Homo sapiens: one gene and its partners. The protein of the gene in region 1 purifies or fractionates together with the protein of each later gene. This does not show direct contact. Each region holds a gene or a part of one and is shown in the gene's direction. Other genes may lie near its edges.

Region 1 (3,625 bases):
CCAGAGTGTTTGAGTATTTTCGTTGCACAGCTTCGAATAAATCCCACAGCAACAGGTAAACGGCTGCAAGCTGTGACTGTTTTCTAAGAGCTCATCTCACAATCTCAGGTCCTCTTCATTTAAACAGAGATGGCAGGAAAGGCGTTATTTTGAGATCTGCATGGAGGAAGTTCACCAGGCAGCCTCAATTCACCAGCTGGAAGTTTGCGTTGTTTGGAAATTTGATGTGTAACACGTTCTGCATGTGGGCTGATGTTTTTGTAAACGGGTAGCACACACATTCAGCAGGGCACCAAAGAGCGGGGGCTTTGCAGTTAGGTCCATCCTTGGCTCTGCAGCCTTGTGTAAGACATGACACGACTTTGAACTTCTGTTTCCTCTTCTGTGCAAAGCAATGATGACAGTATCTACATCACAGGACTGGCATGAGGACCAAGTGAGATTGGGCAAGGTGCCCGGGCACACCAGTCTCACTGTCACTGCTGATGGGCAGAGTGGTTGCCTGGCAGTAGCATCCTCTATCTTCAGCCCACCACCTCTCTTGCTGGCTCACTCCAACTGCTCTTTAGAGATACACGCTTCCCCTCTTTTCTCCTCCCACTGCCTTTCAGTATGGCTGCATTTCCCCCTGCAAGTTGGTGTGTGCTGGGTGGAGGTGGGGGTGAGGACATGTATTCTCTGGAGAAGGCCCTGGTAACGTCAAAGCACTTCTTTGCTGGTGGCCTGGCCCTGTGACCTCATTTGTACCATTTTCTTTTCTAAGAAATACCAGAGATGGACAGCCATCTGGTAGAGAAGTTGGGCCAGCACCTCTTACCTTGGATGGACCGGCTTTCCCTGGAGCACTTGAACCCCAGCATCTATGTGGGCCTACGCCTCTCCAGTCTGCAGGCTGGGACCAAGGAAGACCTCTACCTGCACAGCCTCAAGCTTGGTTACCAGCAGTGCCTCCTAGGGTATTGCCACACTCTCTTTTTCCATGTCTTGCTCCACATACTAAGAGATGGGAAACTTGGGTACTAGTTTGGGCCTGTCACCACTTTGTGGGCAGACCTTAGGCAAATTTTCTCCATCTATAGAATGGAGGACCTTTGTCCATCTATAGAATGAAGGGGTTGGTTGGATTAGATCAGAGATGCTAATGCAAGGCTCCTTTTGCTACTACTGTCCATCATGTGTCTGAGGCAGACATAACTAATCCGTGACTATACTCTTTGATGATGAGCCCAGGAGCAGCATCTGACTCTATGCTCCCTTAGTGTGCCTGAGGCAGATATCACTAATCGATGACTGCAGTCTTCTACATTGAGCTTAGAAGCAGCATCTGACTCTGTATGCTCCCCTCCCATGCATGAGGCAGACATCAGTAATCCATGACCGCATTCTTTCATACTGAGCCCAGAAGCAGCATCTTTTCTTTTCTTTCCTCTCACTCTGTTGCCCAGGCTAGAGTGCAGTGGCACAATCTTGGCTTGCCCCAACCTCCAATTCCCGGGTTCAAGTGATTCTCGTGCCTCAGCCACCTGAATAGCTGGGATTACAGGCGTGTGCCACCATGCCCAGCTGATTTTTGTATTTTTGGTAGAGATAGGGTTTCACCATGTTGGCCAGGCTGGTCTTGAACTCCTGACCTCAGGTGATCCGCCTGTCTTGGCTTCCCAAAGTGTTGGGATTATAGGCATGAGCCACTGCACCAATCCAAAAGCAGCATCTTTGTGCTCCCTTTTCAAGAGGCATCACAGAGAGGCCTGTTTTGGGGTTTGAATGAGAGGCGAAGAATCAGCCATGGAGTGCCTCTTTCTCAGACTCCCTCTTGAGAAGTGGATGCAGGGGTGGAGAGAAAAGAAGACTAGGCATAGTGGCTCATACCTGTAATCCCAACATTTTGGGAGGCTGAGGCAGGAAGATTGCTTGAGCTCAGGAGTTTGAGACCAGCCTAGGCAACATAGTGAGACCACATCTCTTAAAAAAAAGAAAAAGAAAAAAAATGAGCCAGGTGTAGTGACTCATGCCTGTGGTCCCCACTTCTCCGGAGGCAAAGGTGGGAGGATCTTTTGAGGCTGAGAAATCGAGGCTACAGTGAGCCATGGTGGCACCACTGCACTCCAGCCTGGGAGACAGAGAGACCCTATCTCAGTAAAAAAAAAAAATAAAAATATGGCTGGGTGTGGTGGCTCACGCCTGTAATCCCAGCACTTTGGGAGGCCAAGGTAGGTAGATCACATGAGGTTAGGAGTTCGAAACCAGTCTGGCCAACATAGTGAAACCCTGTCTCTACTGAAAATACAAAAAATTAGCCAAGGGTGGTGGTGGGCAACTGTAATCCCAGCTACTTGGGAGGCCGAGGCAGAAGAATCGCTTGAACTCGGGAGGCGGAGGTTGCAGTGAGCTGAGAACATGCCACTGCACTCCAGCCTGGGCAACAAGAGCGAAACTCTGTCTCAAAGAAAATAAATAAATAAAATAAAAAAATAAAAAAGGAGGGGGCATATGGGTGAAGTATGGACAAAATAGTGGGGCAGGCACAGATGATCTGGACACAGGAGCCCTTGGAGTTTATTCTTGAATCTAACTGTTCATCTTTATTAAATATTTGTGGCATACACCTCACAACAACATAGCCAACACACCTCCTTTTGGAGCTTTTATCAAAGTTTCCCACTGTTAAGATTTTTTCCCGCTTTGTGATGCGGGTGGGGTGGGTGCTGTAAGCAGGCTTACGGGGTGGCAGTTTCTCACAAAGGCATTAACTGGCCTTGTCCTAGGTCTGCCTTCAGCGAGGATGACGGTGACTGCCAGGGCAAGCCTTCCATGGGCCAGCTGGCCCTCTACCTGCTCGCTCTCAGAGCCAACTGTGAGTTTGTCAGGGGCCACAAGGGGGACAGGCTGGTCTCACAGCTCAAATGGTTCCTGGAGGATGAGAAGAGAGCCATTGGTGAGCAGACACCATCCGCTGGGGGTGGGGAGCAGCTGGGAGGGCTCATCAGATGATATTCTCCAATGAGAATCAGAACTTTGGGTTTTCTCCCCAGGCGTCTTTCCCACCATCCATTCTGCCCATCTCACTGCCTACGTAGAGGCTCGAACCTGTCCCCATAGCCATCCTTGACCCAGCTTTTCCCGCGCTGCACACATACTATTGACAGGTGTGTTTCGTGGTTTTTTGTTTTTTGTTTGTTTGTTTGTTTTGAGTTGGAGGTTTGCTCTTGCTGCCCAGGCTGGAGTACAATGGCGCAATCTCAGCTCACCGCAATCTCTGCCTCCTGGGTTCAAGCAATTCTCCTGCCTCAGCCTCCTGAGTAGCTGGGATTACAGGCATGCGCCACCACACCCAGCTAATTTTGTATTTTTAGTAGACGTGGGGTTTCTCCATGTTGGTCAGGCTGGTCTCGAACTCCTGACCTCAGGTGATCCGCTTGCCTTAGCCTCCGAAAGTGCTGGGATTACAGGCATGAGCCACTGCGTTAGGCCCACTGACAAGCCTTGTATTGGCTAGCCACCAAGATTGACTTGATTATCCACCTTCGGGACAACTGGACAGCCTGCTTATGACTTACGCCATAGTCTGTCTCTACTAGCTCTCCTGCCCTGACTTGACCCAGCATACAACAGCCAGAGCCAGCCT
Region 2 (3,625 bases), on another chromosome or scaffold:
GGTGAGGGCGAGGAGGTCTACGGCTGGGTGAGGCTGCACGGCACGCTCGGTGCCAGCTGGGTACCCTCGGCGCTGGCTCAGGGTCCCTGAACCTTACGGCCTGACTCCACCTCTTTTCCCACAGTCGGAGTCTCAGGACCAGGTCTTCCTACGCTGGAGCAGCGGGGAGACAGCCACCATGCACATCCTCGTGGTCCATGCCATGGTGATCCTGCTGACGCTGGGCCCGCCTCGAGGTGAGCCGCCACAGGCCCCGGGAGGGGCAGCTTCGTGCCAGGTGGGCCACAGCCCTGACCACACCCAGCGGCTTCCGCATCCTTGCCTTGCTTCTGGGCGGGAAGCCCCCCAGCCCTTCAACCCTGTGTCCTGGCTTCTCTCCTAAAGAGGAGGCTGCAGTCCGTCCCGCGTGTCTCTGAGCACTTGGTGGACGTGTGGGAGATCCCCACGTGGTGGGACCTCCCAGCCTGTAGAGCCCTGAGCTGGAGGGCCTGGTACAGCCTGGGGTCAGAGTCCTCACTGCCCCAGCCTAACCGTGTAGGCCTGCGGTGCCTGGGAGGCGGCAAACTCGGGATTTCACCGTGTGGAGGTGCGACATGAGGCTGCCAGGCAAGTGGGTCCTCTCCCCGGGGCCCAGGCGAGTGACCCTGAGGACGCTCTGGCCAGCGCAGTGTCTGGAACCCAGCGCCTACCCAGCCGTGCCCTCTGCGGCCGCAGCCTTCCCCTTTACTCCTGGCTGACACCATGAACTGCTCCCACGTTCACCCCGTTGTGTCTGTCAGTGGGGGAAGGGGGCGGAACCCTCATGCTGGGGTTCGGGTGGACGTGGGTGGGTGGTGACCCCTGTTGGGAGGCAGACACAGTCACAGGCGTCGCCCTTGGGAAGGGCAGCCGGAGAAGCTGGCCCTGTGTGGGCCTGGGCCTGTGGGGTTTCCCAGTGGCTTTGCGGAGCCAGAGAGCTGGATGGGACCTGGTCCAGCCAAGCAAAGCCCCGAGGGCAGGGGCTGGATGGGGACACGCACATGTCCCCTTGGCCACGACAAAATGGCAGTGATGCTGCTTGCCTTCCTGCAGCATCTGTGAGGATCAAATGCGTGCACCTACGCAAAGCATCCGCACATAGCAAGTGCTCACCTAGCACAGGAGCCCCGTGCTCCTCCCAAGTCTCAGTTTCCTTCTCGGGAGAGGAGGTGCCTCTAGCCTTGGCACCAGCGGTGCTTGGGGCTGGGCCCCGGTGGGTCTGAAGGCTGCTCACCCGTTGTCCTTCCTGAAGCCGACGACAGCGAGTTCCAGGCGCTGCTGGACATCTGGTTTCCGGAGGAGAAGCCACTGCCCACCGCCTTCCTGGTGGACACATCGGAGGAGGCGCTGCTGCTTCCTGACTGGCTGAAGCTGCGCATGATCCGTTCTGAGGTGCTCCGCCTGGTGGACGCCGGTACGGTCCAGGCTGGGCTTGGGCAGGGGCTGCTGACTCAGGGGTCCCGGGCCCCTTGCCTGCTCCTTGTGGGCCTGGGCAGCCTCCGGCTGTGGCAGAGGAGAAGACTGGCCGGGTAGCCTCAGGGGATCCTGCAGACCATATGTCCTGGCCACAGCAGGCTGTGCTGGACCCTGGGAGGAGACCTAGGGCAGCCTGTGCTGGCCCCGTCCGAGAGGGTCTTACTGTCAGGCTCAGGGGTCTAGAGTGAGAAACAGGTCCTCGATGGAAAAAAGAGAAAGTGGTCTGGGGTTGGAGAGGAGGAGGAGAAGTGGTGGGGCCTCTGGGTGGGTCCCTGAAGGATTTGGGGGTTGGAGCTGCAGCCGGGGACCCCAGCAAGGACTGAGCAAGGGGCCTGGGCCCACGTAGGTCAGTAGGGCTGGTGCCTGCTCACAGTGAGGAGACACTGGGGGCAGCTTGGTGAGTGAGTGGGGCTGGCTCTGGAAACCCATGACTGCCAAGGGGTCTAGGCTGTTGTGTGCCCCCGGAAGCCACCGATGGCTTCGGGGCAAGAGCGCCCTGAGCACTGAGAGAAGATAGTCACAGCAGCCTGCGTGCAGCTTCGGAAGTGTACTGCGCCGTGCCACCATAGGCCCTCTGGAGCGCCCACCCACCCCTGGGGATGGGGCCCACACAGCTGCCATCCAGGGTGCAAGGTGGTCCCGACACGCTGCCCCCTTGTGCGGCCCCAGGTCTCGGGTGGGGTCACCGAGCCCACGTGGCCCAGGGTCTCAGGTGGGGCTGCCGAGTGTGCACTGCCCCAGGTCTCGGGTGGGGCTGCCGAGTGTGCACTGCCCCAGGTCTTGGGTGGGGTCACCGAGCCCACGTGGCCCAGGGTCTCAGGTGGGGCTGCCGAGTGTGCACTGCCCCAGGTCTTGGGTGGGGTCACCGAGCCCACGTGGCCCAGGGTCTCAGGTGGGTGGGGTCACTGCACACAGGCAGCCCCAGGTCTCGGGTGGGGTCCCGAGTGCGCATTGCCCGGGTTTTGGGTGGCGTTACGGAGCGCGTGCACCCTCAGCCCTGCAGGACCTGGAGCCGCAGCAGCTGCTGCTGTTCGTGCAGTCGTTTGGCATCCCCGTGTCCAGCATGAGCAAACTCCTCCAGTTCCTGGACCAGGCAGTGGCCCACGACCCCCAGACTCTGGAGCAGAACATCATGGACAAGAGTAAGATGCCAGGGACCTGCGGAGTGGGTTCACACACGCTGACCGAGCCCCAGCCCGGCCAGGCTTTTGGGGCCTGGGTGCGAGCGGGTGGGTGATCCGAGGTCGGGTGGGTGTGGGTGGCACTCGAGGGCAGGCTTAGACCTGTGGGTTGGTGAGGCTGGCACAGTCAGGAGGGAGCCGAGGCCTGGGCCTGCCCCAACCCTGGGGCCAGGCACCCCCTAGGGCCGTGTTTTGAGCTTGGAGGGAGCTGTTGGGGCCTCAGTGCTGACTGAGCTCACCCAGCTTCTGAAGTCCTTGGGAAGTGCTGGTGACGGTGGGGGCATCTCCAACTCTGGTTTCTGTGGAGAGGGAAGGACCTGCTCCCTGGCCCCTGGCCGCGCCCAGGTGTGACCCTGCTACGGTTTGCAGATTACATGGCCCACCTGGTGGAGGTCCAGCATGAGCGCGGCGCCTCCGGAGGCCAGACTTTCCACTCCTTGCTCACAGCCTCCCTGCCGCCCCGCCGAGGTACTGGGGAGGGGTGGGGCCAGCACAGAGACCCAGCCTGGGGAGGGGTGGGGCCAACACAGAGACCCAGCCTGGGGAGGGGGACGGGGCCTGCACAGCCACACAGGGCAGTGCACACTTGCTGATGCCACCTGAGAGGGGCCCCCACAGAAACTCTCAGCCTGTCTTTGGGCAGCATTTGCCTCTGGCCAGCATGCACGTTCCTGTTCAGAGTCTTGAGATCCCTGTGGACCTGAGCGAGACCTGGGGTCCTTGGGGAACACAGAGCCCAGGTCTGAGCTCTTCCTCCTGGGTGACAGTCCCCGGGCAGGACTCGCCATGGCTTGTACAGTTCCCACCGCTGGAAGCAGGTCAGAAAGTGTCCAGCCACTGACAGTTCTCCTGTCTCTGCAGACAGCACAGAGGCACCCAAACCAAAGAGCAGCCCAGAGCAGCCCATAGGCCAGGGCCGGATTCGGGTGGGGACCCAGCTCCGGGTGCTG
Region 3 (3,625 bases), on another chromosome or scaffold:
GTGAAGTCTAAAGCACTAGATGAGATCGAATTTTTGGAATAGAAAGAAAACTTTAGTAGTATCTGCTTTAGTATTCTCATGTTACAGATAAGGAAGTTATTTCATTTCTTTGCTAATGGTTTGTCCTCTTGGTGACTTGAGTAGCAACACAGCCTGGGAACGAAACCTTTTTTCTCTTATCATAGTTTTATCTCTTTTTCTTCCTTAACATGCTATCTGGACCCAATTTTTCTTTATTTCATTGAGCTGATTAAACCATATATTTTGGCCATGGGGAAAAGAATAGTTGAAAATATATAGTTGAAAATCTATACGTATAAAATATTGTGATAAGTTTTATTTGAACCATGATAAGTTTTATTTGAACCTAACCTATTAAAGGTATGTTTTGTCTTTTCTAGGATTTTCTTGACATTATCTAAATAGGGAAAGAATAAAGTAGCAAAAATGAGTGACTTTAAGTAATTTAAATAAATTAAGTATCATAAAAGGTGGTCACATATTTTCTAGAATTATTTTAAATTCTTTAATAAGATAGGCTGTAGTTAGCAGTAGTATCAAAGTTCCAGTTCTCTTGACATAGTTAGTATTTGCTGAGAAACTGCCTGGAAATGCAGTGGTTTTCATTCTGTGAGGTAGGGGAAGTTGTTCTGGGAGGGGATGCACTGTAGTAATTAGGTTTTATTTTCCCATATGAAGTTAATTAATTGTTGTTAAGTTTAATTTCTACTGCTGTGGTCTCTTTTGATTAGTGTCCTGCAGTTAATCTTTGTTTATATGGAAGTATCATGGGAACCCATTCACCTGCTCTTCAGAACGCAAACATTTCAACCATAGATTTATTTTTCTTTCCATATCTTTAGAAAGCTACTTAAAAAAATTAAATCTGATGAGTTTGTATCATTTGGAGTTCTGGAATATGGAGAAGACTCATTTAATCAGTCAGCAAAGGCTTTTACTAACTATATTGCTCTTTGGTGAGGTATATATACGTAGCATAGAACTCATGGCTTTTGCTTTTGAGTTTACAGACCACTTAGGGTTTAAGACATGCATTTGTGAAGCATTCACGTCCTCTTTTTCTCCTTTCCCGCTTTAGACTGAGTGGTCCATTATTGTAGTTAGTGTACTGCAAATGCCCATTTATTTTCTGGCCCCTGTAATCTTCTGTTTTACTCACCTGCCAAAACCCAACACTGGTTAAATTCAACTTGGCCAACTGTTTTTATACCTTATAGGTAAACACGGACGGAGGAAAATGGAGACAACTTTGCTGATTAGTCTCATTTATCTTTATTTTTATTTTCAATTTTTTTTCGAGACAAGGTCTTGCCCTGTCACCCAGGCTGGAGTGCAGTGGCATGATCCTAGCTCAATGTAGGCTTGACCTCCTGGGCTCAAGCAGTCCTCCCATCTCAGCCTCCTGAATAGCTGGGACCACAGGTATGCACCACTGCATCCCCTACTAAGTTTTTAAAATTTTTTGTAGGGACAGGGTCTTCTATGTTGCCCAGGCTGGTCTTGAACTCCTGGGCTCAAGCAATCCTCATCCCTTGGCCTCCCAAAGTGTTGAGATTACAGGCACGAGCCAATGCACCTGGCCCTGATTAGTCTCATTTTAAAGAAACAATCTCAGTCGCAAATGCACATTAAATACTGCTAACACTCCCACAATTCTTTACTATGTCTATTCTTGAAAATCAATATTTCAAACATTTTCCTCCTTTCTGAAGCCTCTAATTTAAACTCTCCTTTCCTCTCTCCCCTACCTCATTCTTTTAGACCTTGTCTTTACTGAGAAAATGAAAGCCATCACAAGGCAAGTTCTTCTTTCTACCTCAAAATTCACTAGCTTATCTACATTTGTACCTATTCTGCTACTTTTTCTCATATTGAAATACATTAAATGTCTCTATTCCCAGATAAATCTAATCTGTGTACTTACACCCTGGATTCCATTTCCTCTCACCTTCTGAAAATGTTGCTCCTACAGTTGTATCTTTGTGCTGCTATAACAAAATACCACAGACTGAGTAATTTATAAAAAAAATTTCAACCTGAATTTTGGAGAGAACATTCAGATAATAGTAGATGCTGAACTTCCTGTACTATCTTTCTTTGGCTAGATTCCACTGTCTTCTGTGTTTCTGCTACAAGACTTCTTTTAGACTCTACCCCACCTTGCTAGAGTCTTGGCTTAGCCTTCTGTTCTTTTTTAGAGAAGAAACTTAGGGCTTTCCTCATTCCTCATATTCTAAGTGCTCCAACCTGAATAACCATCTCTCTCTCTGGGATTGCTCTCTGGTCTGGGTCTGCCACCGCCTTTGCTTGAACTTTAGTATCTTTGACTATGAGTTCTTGCCTCCTTTAGTCTGGTTCTTCCAGTCTTGATTGTAACTCACGTCATACCTTTAACCCCCCACCTTTAAGTTTAAAAAAATCCTTATTTTCTGCTCTCCAAAATATAAGATATTCTAATACTAATTTCAGTGAAAGACATAGTTGGCTACTCTACCTTTTTCCCTGCCCTTGCTGCTTATTTTGCTGACTTATGATCACTGCTTGTCTAAGGAGAAACCTATTGTCTAATGCTGATTAGGAAATGGCATGATGTTTGGTTGTCTTACCTCTCTGAAAATAATGTTTACAGACCATGTGGCAAAGGAATAAAAATTACCTGTGGCTCAAAAGAGAGTGGATTGCAAAAACAGCCAATAATTCGCAAATAATTTGATTTTTCAGATGTGTCTTTATGAATCATTGATCATATGTTTGACTTGATAATTGTTATGTATTTTAGATTTTATTCTGATGAATTATAATACGTTTAAGTAAAAAGGCAAATAGTTAAATTCATTCAACAAATATTGCATACCCACTATGTGCGGGATACTGAATTAGGTGATACAAAGAAGAAAAGACAGCTCCTCCTCTCAAACTTGCTTTTGATAAGTTTTGTGGAGTTGGGACTTTGAGAAGCAGGCAAATTGTGAAAAGCAATATATAGAGAGAGTGATATTGCAAAGTGAAGTCATGTACTTCTGAGTGTGGAAATGCAAAATATAGGAAGATTGAAGGAGCTTTTTTTCCCTCTCTCAAAACAATACAGTGTGAGGGAAGGTTTCACAAAGGAGCCAGCATTTGAGGGCAGAATCTTTTTTTTTGTTTAACTTTATTTTATTTTAGATTCAAGATATACATGTGCAGGTTACATGGGTATATTGTGTAATGGTGGGGTGGTATGATTTAGATCTGTGCCCCACCCAAATCTCATGTTCAGCTGTAATCCCCAGTGTTGGATCTGGGGCCTGGTGGGAAGTGATTGGATCATGGGGGTGGTTTCTAATGGTTTAGCACCATCCCCCAGAGCTGTTATTGTGATAGAATTCTCACAAGATCTGGTTGTTTAAAAGTGTGCAGTATCTCCCCCCTCTCTGTCTTCCTCCGGCTCTGGCCATGTGAAGATGTGCCTACTTCTCCTTTACCTTTTGCCATGATTGTAAATTTCCTGAGGCCTCCCCAGCCATGCTTCATGTACAACCTACAGAACCGTCAGCCAATTAAACCTCTTTTCTTTATAAATTACCCAGTTCCGGCTGGGCACTGTGGCTCACGCCTGTAATCC
Region 4 (3,625 bases), about 11 Mb from region 1:
CCCACCCTTGACATTGATTACCTTCTTAAACACCCTCTTTCCAAGTAGAATCCCACTAGGGGTTAGGACATCAGCAGGTGAATTTTGGTGGGACACAGCGCAGTGCTAAACAGGAGCCCTTTCAGGGTTTTGCCCAAACTGTCCACGTCGTAGGAGGCTTCTAACAATAACTTGTGTTTGCAACACTGAAGTTACTTGACCTTGACTACCCTAGGTCAACCCTAGCCGGACCCCAGCTGTGATTGGAGGGCTGCTTGATGTGGATTGTTCTGAGGAAGTGATTAAACACTTAATCATGGCAGTGAGAGGACAGTTCTCTACTGATGAGTTGGTGGCTGAAGTAGAAAAAAGAAATAGGTAAGGTGTCCTTACTTGGTGTTTTCTCTTACCCCTGGATTCTAGTGTCTGTTGTTGTTTCTGTCTAATTCTCCAGGACTGTCTCTATAGCTGGTCGTTCATGTACACATCTTAGATGTAGCAATGAGTTACTTGCTATTGGTACTGTGAAGACCTTGGGGGAAAACCTAACAGTAGAAATCAGTTTGGAAACCAGGTCCATCTTGGTCCCTAGAGCAACCTGAAGTCAATGGACTCTGAGATTTTTTGTTTCAGGAAACATCTGTCAGAGCCCTGGAGTTGCCCTCAAGACTTCCAGTGGTAGCCTTGAGACTTTACAGCACCTTCCTTCTTTCAAAGGCTCAAGCTGCTGCTTCCCTGGCTGGAGTCCCAGATTCAGGAAGGCTGTGAGGAGCCTGCCACTCACAATGCACTGGCTAAAATCTACATCGACAGCAACAACAGCCCCGAGTGCTTCCTGAGAGAGAATGCCTACTATGACAGCAGCGTGGTGGGCCGCTACTGTGAGAAGCGAGACCCCCATCTGGCCTGTGTTGCCTATGAGCGGGGGCAGTGTGACCTTGAGCTCATCAAGGTGGGTAGCAGATGTGCTGAGCTGCCCATGTAACCCTGGGCTCCCAGGGAAGCTTTCAAAGGTGTGCCTGTGGGGAGCTGATCAGGGCTTTCTGTGCACCTGGAGATGGCAGGTCATGAGATTATTTCCTTGTGATTCTCACAGCTTTTGGGAACTTGCTCATGCAATTTGTATGCATTGTACCTGTAGACCAGTTGGTCCTGAACCTGACTTATCATCCCTCTGCTTACAGTCCTTACTATTGCCTGGCAATTTGAGGGCAGAATTGAACTCCTTGGCCTGACTCGTGAGCTCCTCTGTGGACTGCCACCTTTCCCAACTCCCGAACTTGATCAGCCATCCATCTTGCCACCCCACCTGGAGAGGCCTGCAATTCCCTGGGTGCCTCATGTCCCGAGTACCCTTGTACTTCATGCCCCCTTTTTGGGGTAACCCTCTACACAAGCCCTTCCCCATCACCTGACCAATGAGCTCTTGCTGGCCTCTCCTTGAGACATCTGCCCAGGTCTTTTGCCTGCATCTGCCCAGGCTTGGATCCACATATAATTACATGTTTAGGTTGAATTGTATGAACTGTTCCTACCTAATCATTTGATCTAAAAATCCAGACATGAATAGGGCACCTGTGAGGTTGGTGCCACACCAGCCTGCTTGGGCTTTTCCTGTGATACACAGGCGGACTGCGCTGCATCCGCAAGCACGTGTGCACGCCGCTCAGCCTTGTGCCGGGCATCTGGCACTCAACAGATCTGATCCTCACCAGGATTTAGCAAGTGCTGCACACGCTAGAACATTCCAGTGGACTGTTGGTGTTTTGGAGATCTGTTATAACATTCAGAAAAAGGTCTCCAGATCTACCAGTGAAAGCACAGTTTACAGTTTTTAGATCTTGAAACATTGCAGTGTTTGTGCTGTTTTATACCAGTTCTAGGCTGTTCTGATAACATTTTACAGATGGTTTAAAGCTAGCTACATATGAGTACTTAAATTTAACTAAATTAAAAATTACCAGTTTAGTTCCTGTCACGCACCACATTTCAAGGGCTCAGTAGCCTCCCATGGCTAGTGGCTGTATCAGACAGAATGGGAGACAGAGCATGTCCCTGAATGCAGGAAGTCCTACTGGCCAGATATGTGGCACATCCCTGGGAGTTGTTGTAAACTTGGAAAGGGCATTTTGAGGTAGTTTGAGTCCATCGTTAACCCTGTAGGATGCTGCTCATCCCATGTCAAAGCATAGCGTCTTGCCTGGGCCCTGACTGTCCACCAAACCAGTATCAGGCACACAGGGAACGAATTGGGGTGTGTCCTCCCAAGCAGCTTCCGCTGGTTGGCTGCTGTGTCACACACATGAGTGTGCTCATTTCAGGTGTGCAATGAGAATTCTCTGTTCAAAAGCGAGGCCCGCTACCTGGTATGCAGAAAGGATCCGGAGCTCTGGGCTCACGTCCTTGAGGAGACCAACCCATCCAGGAGACAGCTAATTGACCAGGTGAGGCACAGAGATGGGTATGTCTGCACACCTGCATTTTGCCGTCCGATCATCATTGTGGCTCAAGTGACTGGTTTCATTTTTAATTTAAAACATCTTGGCTGAGGGCAGTGGCTCACGCCTGTAATGCCAGCAATTTGGGAGGCGGAGGTGGGTGGATCACTTGAGGTCTCAGGAATTCAAGACCAGCCTGGCCAACGTGGTGAAACCCCATCTCCACTAAAAATACAAAAATTAGCCGCACATGGTGGCACACGCCTGTAATCCCAGCTACTTGGGAGGCTGAGGCAGGAGAATTGCTTGAACCCAGGGGGTGGAGGTTGCAGTGAGCCGACATCGTGCCACTGCACTCCAGCCTGGGCGACAGACAGAGACTCCATCTCAAAAAAATAAATAAATAGGCCAGGCATGGTGGCTCACGCCTGTAATCCTAGCACTTTGGGAGGCCGAGGCGGGTGGATGACTTGAGGTCAGGAGTTCAAGTCCAGCCTGGCCAACATAGTGAAACCCCATCTCTACTAAAAATACGAAAACACACTGTGTGGCGCATGCTTGTAATCCCAGCTACTCAGGAGGCTGAAGCAGGAGAATCGCTTGAACCCAGGAGGTGGAGGTTGCAGAAAGCCGAGACTGCACGCCACTGCACTCCAGCCTGGGCAACTGGGTGAGACTCTGTCTCAAAAAAATTAAATAAATAAATAAATAAATAAATAAATAAATAAATAAAACATCTTAGTCCTTACGAACCTTCTCCCCTGCAGAAATAGCTTGCCTAAAAATAGCTTGATTCCCCAGGGTAAGCTGACTTGGAACTGTTAACTGGCCAAGGGCATAGAGTTGGCCCTTGGATCCAAAGCAGGGATATGCAGCCCAGGAAGAGAGTACCTGGTGTCATGCCTGCATGCTGGGCCCAGCTCAGCCCTCGTGGACAGAGGTGAAGTAGCTTTCAAGGTTGTCTCAGCTGACTTCCCTTTGTTGAGGTGCTCTTTATGCCCCTGTGACTATCCAGCACCTCCTTGGAGACTGGGCAGAGTGCTGGGGCCAGGGGTCATTATTGGGTATGGCCTGGCAGGTGGGAGTCTGCCTCGGCCTCTGGGAGGGCTTCCCACAGCCCTGTGGAAGAGCCTCCTCTCCAGTTATAGCCTCACAGACATTTGCAGATAGTGCCTCTGCTGCCCTCAGCACTGTCCCTAGGTGCTAGG

What was found. Proteins that work in one complex are often made in the same cells at the same time.
Region 2: the proteins of TCN2 (region 1) and INTS1 purify together in Homo sapiens (affinity purification with mass spectrometry; one large-scale study listed by BioGRID and IntAct). This does not show direct contact.
Region 3: the proteins of TCN2 (region 1) and DNAJC3 purify together in Homo sapiens (affinity purification with mass spectrometry; one large-scale study listed by BioGRID and IntAct). This does not show direct contact.
Region 4: the proteins of TCN2 (region 1) and CLTCL1 purify together in Homo sapiens (affinity purification with mass spectrometry; one large-scale study listed by BioGRID and IntAct). This does not show direct contact.

What each region holds. Positions count from the first base shown.
Region 1 is NC_000022.11:30,610,108-30,613,732, forward strand, and holds part of TCN2 (transcobalamin-2 isoform 1 precursor), read left to right. Parts: intron 1-763; coding exon 764-956; intron 957-2,765; coding exon 2,766-2,935; intron 2,936-3,625. UniProt on the Homo sapiens protein: Primary vitamin B12-binding and transport protein. Delivers cobalamin to cells.
Region 2 is NC_000007.14:1,480,353-1,483,977, reverse strand, and holds part of INTS1 (integrator complex subunit 1), read left to right. Parts: intron 1-124; coding exon 125-236; coding exon of another isoform or gene 237-277; intron 278-1,270; coding exon 1,271-1,432; intron 1,433-2,489; coding exon 2,490-2,636; intron 2,637-3,044; coding exon 3,045-3,143; intron 3,144-3,536; coding exon 3,537-3,625. UniProt on the Homo sapiens protein: Component of the integrator complex, a multiprotein complex that terminates RNA polymerase II (Pol II) transcription in the promoter-proximal region of genes.
Region 3 is NC_000013.11:95,680,051-95,683,675, forward strand, and holds part of DNAJC3 (dnaJ homolog subfamily C member 3 precursor), read left to right. Parts: intron 1-3,625. UniProt on the Homo sapiens protein: Involved in the unfolded protein response (UPR) during endoplasmic reticulum (ER) stress.
Region 4 is NC_000022.11:19,218,683-19,222,307, reverse strand, and holds part of CLTCL1 (clathrin heavy chain 2), read left to right. Parts: intron 1-214; coding exon 215-357; intron 358-696; coding exon 697-931; intron 932-2,300; coding exon 2,301-2,423; intron 2,424-3,625. UniProt on the Homo sapiens protein: Clathrin is the major protein of the polyhedral coat of coated pits and vesicles. Two different adapter protein complexes link the clathrin lattice either to the plasma membrane or to the trans-Golgi network.